2 separate regions of the Homo sapiens genome follow, and region 1 is linked to region 2. The links come from fine-mapping of genetic effects on gene expression. A gene starts in region 2. The other region holds a variant in brackets. All regions are shown on one strand. Distances are from middle to middle.

Region 1 (5,364 bases), 26 kb before region 2:
TGACCTACAAAACACAGAGAGACAGGGTGGCACTTATAAGCCCTCTTTTGCGAACATTAATCCCGAGCCAGGCCCTGACGCGGCTTCGGCCCATTCAGCCTCTCCAGTGAAGGAGGCCCAATCCCAGGAACCCGAATTTCTGCAAAATATATGCTGGGTTACCATGAGAGGGTTGTGGGTGAAATTTCTTCTTTTGAAAACACCTCCTTTAATGTTATTATCGGCTTTATGTTTTAATAATTAAAAAATGAGTTAAAAATGCAGTGGAAGTTGAAAACAGCCCATTTTGAAATGGGCACCTAGACAAAGGGGAAACCCCTGTCCCCAAATCGCTGCTGAAATTTGTCTGCCCCACTGTGAGCTCCTAAGGGTGGGGAGGAACAGTAGCTGTGTATGGCATCAGCCTGCCAGCTGTTCGTTCTTTTGCCCAATTGGCAAATAGTGTTGGGCACCTACTGTGTGCAGCAGGTCTGGGCTTTTGGGGGCCTGGGAGTAGGGGTTCCATCCAGGGTGTTGGGACCCAGACGCCAGCCTCCAACGCTGACGGAGAGAAGCCCCTGACCCTGAGCTCTGTAACCTGCCCTTTCTAGATCACTCTCTATGAAGGCAAGCACTTCACAGGGCAGAAGCTGGAGGTCTTCGGGGACTGTGACAACTTCCAGGACCGGGGCTTTATGAACCGAGTGAACTCCATCCACGTGGAGAGCGGAGCCTGGGTCTGCTTCAATCACCCCGACTTCCGGGGCCAGCAGTTCATCTTGGAGCACGGCGACTACCCCGACTTCTTCCGCTGGAACAGCCACAGTGACCACATGGGCTCCTGTCGGCCTGTAGGAATGGTGAGTGGGCCCGTCCACCGAAGGCTGAGTCTTCCTGCTGGAGGGACCGAGGGTCAGCCCTGGCAGACAGTGGCAAGGAATCGGGGAGCGTGGTCCTCCCGGCTTTAAAGTCTGTAAGACTGAAGGAGCTATACCCAGAGCCACCTGCTGGCATGAGGTGAGTAGGTGGGGGGCCAAGTTGCTATGAACTGAGTGGGAGTGGCCCTGAGTTTTCATACAGGTATCAATAAACCACTTTAAGTTTCGGAGCCAAAAATCTAGCTGCATTTTCCATTTAAAATGCTGTTGAAATCATCCAAATTTAGATTTCCAGCCAGATAGGGGACACTCCGCCAATGGGAGGCTGATTTGGGCCTAGTGTGGCCACTAGTACAGGTGGTCTTGTGGCACATTCTGGAGCCTTCCATGTCTTGGAATGGCTGATGGAGGAAGCTGAAGAATCACCCGCCTGTCAGGGGAAAATTGGGGGGCAGGTCCCTTGGAATTACACAGGTAGCTGCCGCCCAAGAGGTGTGTGCAGGGAGGGCAGACGAGGGGCATGGCTCCCCGGTGGCGAAAGACTGTTTCGGTCCAGCTGCTCCTAGGGTGGGATTTAAGCAAGGCCGTTCCCCCAGGTCATGGGTACTCACTGACCTGCTGTGAGCTCTGGAGCTTCAGGTGGGGAGTGGCGGACTCCTGAGCCTGGGGGCGTGCATCTCTCATCACAGAGCGTCTCGCTTATGTCTGCTGAGGACCCTCCCCCGACGCCTGGGCTGGGTGGTTCTGGTGAACATCTGAGGAACCCCAGTAAAGGGGCCTTTGTGTGGTGCCCCCTCTCTTTTCTGTATCAGTTGCAAAACCAGCTGGGCTTTGGCATCTCAAATTGTAAGAATGCTTCCTTAGTATTTCTTCCAGGCTGTGGTCCATTTGGAAAAAAGAAATTTAAATGGTTGGCCCTGGACCCTGCATAATGCTATTTATATGAAAAACATCCTTGGTATCTTGCGAACTGCTGTTCTCCTAAGAGCTAGCCTGGGGCCAGCTGTGACGCAGACCAGGCCCTGCCGGCTTCTGAGCCAGGCAGGGGCTGGCCCTCCTCTGTCTTTTGGAAATGCGGGAATCATATAGGGAGATGTGCTGAGCCTAGGGGACAATGATGTCAAGGCCAGCAGGGGTTTCAGCACATGAGATCTGGTATTTGTTTTAGATTTTTGGCTTTATGTTTTACTAAAAGGTTCTATTACAGTTTTAAAATGTTATCATTTGAAGGCTTGCCCATGGGCTGTGGCCCAGGGGTGGGGAAGTCAGAACCCGGAGTGTGTGGCTGTGATCAGGGCCGGAGTCCCCCACGCTGAGCACCCAGAGGGAGCCCCGTGACCCCAGCCCTGGTCTGAGTGTGACCGCTGGCCTCTGGTCAGTTTGGCCCTCTTTGGACCTCAGATTTTCTAGTTGTAGAAAGAGGAGCTTGGACCAGCTCAGTGGCTTGGAACATTTTCAGAGTAATAGAACCCTTTCTTCCAACCACATCTCATGTGGAAGAACAAACAGAAGTGTGGGGTTGAAGTGTGTGGGGTGGGGGTGCCCAGTGCCTTGGGTACCTCCTAATTCCTTCCTGCATGGGGCTTCTGTTTCTGGGAGAGGGGAATTCACAGCAACCTCCTTCTTTCCTTCTTTTTTGCTTGGTCTTGGAGCACGGAGAACATTTCCGCCTAGAAATCTTCGAGGGTTGCAACTTCACGGGCCAGTGCCTGGAGTTCCTGGAGGACAGCCCCTTCCTCCAGAGCAGGGGCTGGGTCAAGAACTGTGTGAACACCATCAAGGTGTACGGGGACGGAGCGTGAGTACAGGCCACGTGGCCGCACCCCGAGGCCCGGCTAGGCCCTTCAGCACCAGGCGTGGGAGGCTGCCCGCCACACAGGGGTGGTGGGTGGGGTGGGAATGAGACCTCCAGCAGTGGGCAGCGTGTCCCTGGCCCCACAGGCCCTCTCCTTTCCTCAG[C/G]TGCCTCACCTGCCCCAGTCAAGCAGCGGGGAGCTTCCCCTGTGGCCCAGAAGGGCCTCAGAGAGGGACTCTGGGCCCCAGAGGCACCCTGAGACCTTCCCTCTAGGGCCTCAGTCCAGGAGCAGAGGTAGGAGAGTACCTTGAAAGTTGCACGGTTCTCTGCGATTGATCTGATACAAGGGGCCGCCTTTGGTTTTCTTGAACCGGGGGACACCTGCTTACCAAGGGGTCCTCCAGGGCCTTATGGGCTGGAAAAGCCACAGTGGGCTCACTTGCTCTGAGAAGGGTGGACCAGCCCACCCTGCCCCCGCGCCTACCCCGCAGAGCTGACCCCTGAACCGGGCCTCTCTGCAAACCCCCACCACCCTGGCCTCTGGGAGGAGATGGACTTCGGGGTGGCTCACTCCTGGACAGAAAGTAGCTGGGGGAATTTTGCCCAGGCCCAGATGGGTTTGTCTGCCCCACACTTGGGTTTCCTCCTGGTCAACCAAGGGCAGCCTGTGTGCCCCCTCCTGCCCTCCCGCACACTCCCCTTTTGCAACTATCCTCTGAGCACCTTCAAGTTGGCCATGTATTTTCATTGTCCAGCCCACACCTCTAGGTCAGGTAGATATTATCGCCCCCGTTCTACAAAGGGCAAGCTGAGACTCAGAAGGCTGACTGCCCGGCCGCCCCGTGGGAGTGGCACAGCTGAGACTGCAGCCAAGCCTGTGTCTGTCCCTGTTCCAGAGCTAGCCGCTTTCCCAGGCCTCAGTCCCCTCCCCTCAGGCCAAGAGCCCCTCACACAGGTTCCAGCTGGCTGTGCATGGTTCTGGCGCCTATCGAAGCAATTGAGGAACAATTTGCCGTCTATACTACAGAGGTTCAAGGCCAGGGAGCTTCGGAGGGGATGCAGGGGGCAGAGGGACTGCAGGGAGACAGAGACTGGGCCGAGGCAGAGCTGGGCACAGGTGGTACCCCATGTCCATGGGCTCCAACCGCACAGCGAAAATATCCCCCCACAATTGTGTCTATGCTGAATATGTACATTATTCCCTGAAAGATACTGTACAACTATTTACATAGCGTTTATGTTGGATTAGGTATCATAAGTAATCTGGAGATGATTTCGAGTCCAGTAAGTCCTCACTTAACATTGTGGATAGGTTCTTGGAAACTGTGACTTTAAGTGAAACAATGTATGGCAGGTCCTCAAATATGTCATCTTGTTCAATGTGGATTCATTATAAAATTGATGAGGGGAGAAATGGCTTTGTTATATATCATGTGCTTAAAGCCACGGTTCCCAAGAACTTACTGACGGTGTTAAGTGAGGACTTACTATATATGGGAGGATACACATGGGTTATATGCAAATACAGTGCCATTTTATATCAGGAACTTGAGCATCCTCGGATTTTGATATCCAAGGGAGGTCCTGGAACCAGTTCCCAGGGATAGGGAGGGACTGTGTACATCCCACCTTTCCCCGGTGGCCTGATGTTGGCCCCCTTCCTGCTGTTTCTGTCACTCTAGCTGGCTCCAGGATTCCGTTTTACGAAATTGCATTTTGCCCTAAATTGGTGGCACCTGGAGCCCAGGGGTGGCATTCCAAAACAAGAATTTGCCCTGGAAAACTTGCTGGCTAAATTGTGTCTTGTAAGGCCCAAGTCATGCCTTTGCGTGGAGGATGTCCTGAGGCCCTAGACACAATCCCCCCGGCCCACCCCCAACGCTCAGGGGCTTGTTGAGAACGAAGGTGGGGAAGGTGGAGGCTAACATTTCTCTGACTGAGGGGCACACAATCCCCACTGTCCCTGAGAGGAGCCAGCCATCGGGACCCCAGGTGGGGGACCCAGGAGCTCAGCCTTTGCCGCCTAAGACTCTTACTCTTACACAAATGTAAGCCCTTGTCAAGGAGGTAACGCCCCCAGGTCCCCTCGATCCGGAGGGGACACTGCTAGGAGGCCTTTCCTGGGGTCGGGGGAGTGGGCAAGGCAGGGTCCCTCCACCACCTCCCACTGCCAAGACTCCTTCCCTCTGGGTCCCACATCAGCCCAGGCATGACCCATCCCCTCAGACCCGTGTCCTGGTGGGCTCTCGGAGGGAAATGCACTGGCGTTCTGCCTCCACCTACCCTCACCTGGGGAAGGGCACGGTGCTGATGTGGGCAGGACAGGCCCCTGCCCTTTCCTCTGTCTGCCTCCTCCCAGTAGCCACAGCCAGGACAGGGGACAGCAGGATGGGTGGTTCCCCGCCCCCTCCTTTTGGGGGTGTCCATGTGAGAACCCTCATGTGGCCCAGGACATGGCTTGGGGCATTTCTTGCCCACCACAGGGTAGGAAAGGACCAGCTGACTCTCTGAGGTGCCTCTGAGGCCCCAGCTGTGGCACAGGTGTGGGGTTGGAAAGCTGTAGGTGTGGAGGGGCATGGATACGGGGGCCATGAGGGTGGGGTCCAGGCTGGACCAGGCCTGCCCTGAGTCCCCCAGCAGGTGCTCCAGGCTGGCTCACACCCTCTGCCTCTCTCTCTTCCTTCCTGGCCCCAACCCTTGAGGCAGCAGACTGTG
Region 2 (5,364 bases):
GACAAAGCTCTGGCTATGACGTTCCCTGTGGGCGCCCCTCAAGGTGCCTCCCTCTGTCACCACCTACACACACACACACACACACAACTCAGGAATATCCAGCTTTCACCATGCTTCTCAGAGAGGCCCCAGAGGGTCACTCTTTCCAGCAGGGTAAATTGTGGCAGTCCCTGTGGCACGGGGAATGAGCACTCCCTGGCACAAAATGCACCCGCCCCCCAACCCTTCACTTGTTAAACACTGCCCATTTCTTGCTTCTTAAAGCTTAACCATTTCCTCCTACACCCTACCAGGTTCCCTTCCCAAGGTGCCTTCCATTTATAAAGTGATTAGGTCCAGGAGGGCCTGGGCACCACGGGACTCCAGGCCCTCTTGGAGGCTCCAGAAGAGTTAAAGGTGTGAAAGGGGAAGGGAGCCCAGGTTCTGCTGGGGACCCAGCCTGACTCCTGGGTCTCTATAGCTTTGCTATCTTAAGGTGGAGGTTGGGGGAGACCCCAGTTTCAGGGGAATTAGGGGAGACCTCAGTTCCAGGGGAATTCGGTGCTGTTTTCCAATCTACCCAGCTTCTTGTACTCCTGTTAGATCTGGGGGCAATTTCCCAGAGGAGAGTCTGTAATCTACGACCTGCAAGAGAAAAGGGAAGACAGGCTGGCTGAGGACATCTGCACCCACAGCTCTACAGTCCAGACTCAACCCCCAGAGATGGCTGGCTCATCCCCACCAGGGGGCCACTTTGTGCCAAACCGGAGAAGGAGGGGTGGGGGAGGTGGAGAAGCCAAGAACAAAAAATCTATCAACCTGGAAAGAGGAAGTAGGTAAGGTCAGCGGTGTGTGGACTGCAGGCTCCCAAGATGATGGCGCTGGCGCTTCTGAACGCTCTGCCTGCTGGGAGCTGAGCATGGGGCTGATGGCTTGTGTTGGCTGCAGAGGAGAGGAACCAGAGTGCATGGGTGCCACCTTGCTCAGGAATCCTGGGTGACCTCCTTGAAAGTTAAGCTTTTCTCCTGGTGGTTCTTTCCTCTGGCCCACGACCAGGCAAGCTCGCCCAACCTACGATCTGTCCCCAGCTCCCAAACTGCTTTCAAACCCCTCCCCTCTTAGTTTCCAAAAGAGTCGATGCCTGGTTCTCCTTGGCCCCTCTGCCCAGAAAGTTTGGGTTTCCTCTGGCACTTCTCCGGATAAACCCTCCCAGCCTCCATGGTCCTCACATTCACCTTCCCCAAGGGCTGCAGCCGCAGGGCCTGCCCAAGATCCCCACTATACCGAGTCTGTCCTCACCTGGAGGCCACACCGCAGTTTCACACCTGGATGTGCAATGGGCCCCCTGAGGTTCACCGGTTCCTAAGAGGAACTGGTGATCAGCCTGTAGGGGACAAAACAGTCTACCCAGCCTCTCAGCACAAGACAGGCTCCCCGGCCTCTCCCGCCTCGCAGGCATCCAAATGCTGAAGCCTCCACCTCCTGAAAACGTCTCTCCTTTCGGCCTCCCTCTCTCCGGCTGGATGACCCCAAATCTCGTCCTAACGCTCCTCCACTGCCCCTCTCTCCACCACCTGCTAAGGAAGGGCCACGCTCCTTAAGCTGAGGCGCCAGCTGCTTTACAAGTTTTGAGGGAAAAGAACGGATTTCTCTGGTTAGGCCACTCTGGGTATAAACGACCCAACGGCCTGGGACACCCCACGATGGGGTTTTCTTTTGGAGTCTGGATAGAGCAGAGCGTGCAGTACTGGTCGTCCCATTGCGGGCTAGCTCGCCAAAGACGCCCCTTCCTTGCCCTTCTCCCTAGGCTCCTGAGAGAGCCCTGGAGCGTTCTGGAAATCCTGCTACCTTTAGGACCTGGGGGATCCGAGTAGGGGGGTCACCTTCCCCGTCCCCAGCGAAGTCGGCGCCGGAACTGCCCTAATGGAAACCAGCCGCCGGGCGCTCCGGGAGGGCTCAGGCCGACCCCGGGGTCCATTAGAGGCGCCCCAGGCCGAGGGAGCCCGCGGCGGCTGGAAGGTGAACTTGACATCCCGGCTCCACCGACCCCGCAGCGGCTCGCACCTCATCCCCACTCCGGCCAGACCAAAGTAGAATCCTGGGTGTGCGCGTGATTTCCCAGGGAGGGCGGACTCGGGGCTTTCCCTGTCGCACCCTCCATTGGGGGACCGCCCCCAAGTCCCCGAGAGCCCCTCGGGCAGAGTCCTTAGGGCTCAGAGCATGGGAGGACCTGGCTTGCCTGGTGGAGGCGAGTAGCCGAGGGGTCGGTGGAGCTGCGCCCCAAATGAGTTCCCGGCGCGCGATTCTCCCCGACCCCGACCCTTTGTCCGCCTCCCCCTCCCTCGTCCCGGCCCTTGGCTCAGGGGACCCAGGCGGCGGCGGCGGAGGTGGCAGAGGCCAGAGCCCAGAGGCGCAGCCCGGGCAGCTAGGAGGGTCGCACGTGGAGCCGTCCCCCGGACCCGCACAGCGACGAAGGGGGGAGGCTGCAGGCGCGCGGGGTGGGGGCTGGGGCGCAGCCCGAGAAGTGGGAGGGGATCGGGTGAGGGGTGGTCTCTGAGGAGGAGCCAGGCTGGACCGTATTGTTCCGCGCTCGGCCGGGGAGGGCGCGGGGCGCTCGGCTTCCCGTGTTCCTCTCCCCGCCCCAGCCCCGTGGGCGCGAGAGGAGGCGGGGGGCTCCTTGTGCACCAGAGACGCAGCTGCCTTGTTCGCCCGGTGGGGTGTGGATCCTCCGAGCGGTGCTGGGAAGGGGGTTCTCTCTGCCCGCGCGCCCAGGACTCTACCCAGGGCGGAGGTCCCGAGTGGGCCGCCCCCCGCAGCGCCCTGGGTTCGCGGGCCCAGAGGCTGGAGGCAGCGGGGAGCTAGGGTCCTTCACCCTCCCCTCGCCGCGTGCCTCCGCAGGAGTCGGGCTCCCCGTTCCCCGCGATGGCCGCGGGCCGCAGTCGTACGGAGCCGCCGCGCGGACCCCGGGGCGCCCCTCCCTAGCGGGGCGCAGCTCCTTCTTGTTCCCCGCCCTGCCAGCGGGATGGGGGGCGGCGGGTCGGCCCTGAGGGTCTGCGCCGACCACCGCGGGGGCATCAACTGGCTGAGCCTGAGCCCCGACGGGCAGCGCCTGCTGACGGGCAGCGAGGACGGCACGGCCCGGCTCTGGAGCACCGCGGACGGCCAGTGCTGCGCGCTCCTGCAAGGTAGACCCTCCCACTCCCTCCCTGACCTCTTCGCCGCAGCTCACCGGCCCCAGACCGCGGACCCCAGCTCCTGCGCCCGCAGACCCCTTTCTAGAAGTCCAGCCCCCGCTCATCCCGGCACACTAGCGGAAGAGCGCTTGTCTGGGCCCAGCATCTGGCTGTTGAGCGCACGGCAGGGCAGGGTGAGGTCTGGGGGTGGGGTGCGGGTGCAGAGCAGGGTGCGGCCGGGATCGGGTGGGTGGGTCGAGGGGCGTCCGCTACAAAGGCGAAGATCATTTGTCAACCAGCGGCAGGAAATCTCCCTTGACAACAATGTTAACAAACAAAAAGTTGCACCTATACTCCTTCTAAGCAAACCTTCCCTTGTCTCTAGGTGCCTTGTGGCCTCTTTGTGGCCAATTGTGCTCTTCTGCTGGCATTTCCTGTTGACGACTCTCACAGCAACAGTAGACGCTTGTTAAGGGCCAGCGGTGCGGAGAAGTGTGCCGTCGTCACACTATGTTACCCCACATACAGACGTGGAAACAGGCTGGGAGTTAAGTAATTCGCCCAGGTCGCACAGCCAGTGAGGGGTAGATGGCAGTCTGAGCCCTCTCATTGCTGTAAACCCTGCCTGCATGCCTGTTGGTTTCTATTTGTGCCCTGTACTCACTCAGGAGGTCAGTGTGCCTCGGGTGCACCTTCCCCTGGGCCTGTCCCATGCACTGTGAGGTCCCTTTCAGCTCTGGCCCTCCTACTGCCCAGGTAGCACACGTAGTCCCCTGGATGAGCCGCGAGGCTTTCTGCTGTGGGTAGTTCTTTATCACCGCGGGCTTTTCCACCATCATCAGTGAACTCTCTGTGGCCTCGCCCAGGCCTTCCAACTTAGGTAGGATATTAGCCCCAATATTGGCTAATCCTGATACTGCTGGTTTTAAATAAGAACAGTTGACCAGGCTCGGTGGCTCACACTTGTAATCCCAACACTTTGGGAGGCCAAGGTGGGTGGATCACCAGAGGTCAGGAGTTTGAGACCAGCCTGGCCAACATGATGAAACCCTGTGTCTAATAAAAATACAAAAAATTAGCTGGGCGTGGTGGCGGGCGCCTGTAATTCCAACTACTCGGGAGGCTGAGGCAGGAGAATCACTTGAACCCAGGAGGCAGAGGTTGCAGTGAGCCAAGATCGTGCCACTGCACTCCAGCCTGGGTGACAGAGCCAGACTCTGTCTAAAAAAAAAAAAAAAAGAAAAGAAAAGAAAAAAATATTACATAGTTAGGGCAGATATTTCAAACCCAACAGGGATGACTTTTGGATTACCGGTTACTTGGGAGTTGGTGTGGATAATGGAGAGGTGGCCACAAACTAACACACATCCCCCCCAAACAGCCACACACACTTATAGGCATTCAACCAGGAATGGAAAATATGAGGTCTTTTAGAAATGTTAAGTCCAGTTGGTATTGCTCCCAAACATAAGACTGTCTTGGGGGTAGAGGGGTGGGTGGTGTTTCAGAAATGCAGATCCCCAGGCCTGGGCTCCAGTGATGCAGTCCTCCATGAATAGGGCTGTAGAACTGGCATTTCTTCTTGTTGTTGTTTTTTGAGATGGAGTTTCGCTCTTGTTGCCCAGGCTGGAGTGCAGTGGCACGATCTTGGCTCACTGCAACCTCCGCCTCCCGGGTTCAAGCGATTCTCCTGCCTTGGCCTCCTGAATAGCTGGGATTACAGGTGCTCGCCACCACGCCCAGCTAATTTTTTTGTATTTTTATTAGACGTGGGGCTTCATCATGTTGGCCAGGCTGGTCTTGAACTCCCGACCTCAGGTGATCCACCCGCCTTGGCCTCCCGAAGTGCTGAGATTACAAGTGTGAGCCACTGCACCCGGCCTAGAATTGGCATTTCTAACAAGCTTTTGGGTGGGTCTTATGCACAGCTGGCCCCGGGAGCCCCTGGGCTGGGGACGGGTTGTGGGAGCCCAGCTTAGCCCACAATTAGGTGGGGTTTCTCCCCAGTGAGGCCCCAGGCTTTGCCAGGCTGCCGGTAGCCTGGTGGGCACTTGGCTTTGCCCCCACGGCAGCTCTGGAGCCTCACCAAGCCTCCAGGGCCCACCCTCCTGCCCAGCTCTGTGTCTGGCACCTGTGCCTCCTTCCTTCACACCCACTTTGGTGACCCTCACGGCTGCTTGTCCCCTTGAGGTACTGACACTCACTTCCCAGG

Evidence for each region. PIP is the estimated chance that this variant, and not a neighbour inherited with it, causes the effect.
Region 1: its variant is the best candidate, but not a certain one, in a credible set for the expression of WDR86 in whole blood (INTERVAL, PIP 0.77).

What each region holds. Positions count from the first base shown.
Region 1 is chr7:151,433,471-151,438,834 of GRCh38, reverse strand. CRYGN (crystallin gamma N) reads left to right here. Exons shown (of 4, transcript NM_144727.3): 2 at 591-839; 3 at 2,510-2,655. It overlaps LOC124901780, which reads left to right and starts at 2,674. Exons shown (of 1, transcript XM_047421163.1): 1 at 2,674-5,364. It overlaps MIR3907 (microRNA 3907), which reads left to right and starts at 5,196; the gene lies at 5,196-5,346. RefSeq lists an enhancer at 277-1,126. The variant C/G (reference allele first, on the strand shown) is at 2,817.
Region 2 is chr7:151,407,227-151,412,590 of GRCh38, reverse strand. WDR86 (WD repeat domain 86) reads left to right here and starts at 2,553. Exons shown (of 6, transcript NM_198285.3): 1 at 2,553-3,164. The coding sequence starts at 3,002. It overlaps WDR86-AS1 (WDR86 antisense RNA 1), which reads right to left and starts at 3,430. Exons shown (of 6, transcript NR_109857.1): 1 at 3,209-3,430; 2 at 1,279-1,363; 3 at 799-921; 4 at 521-624. RefSeq lists an enhancer at 1,355-1,987.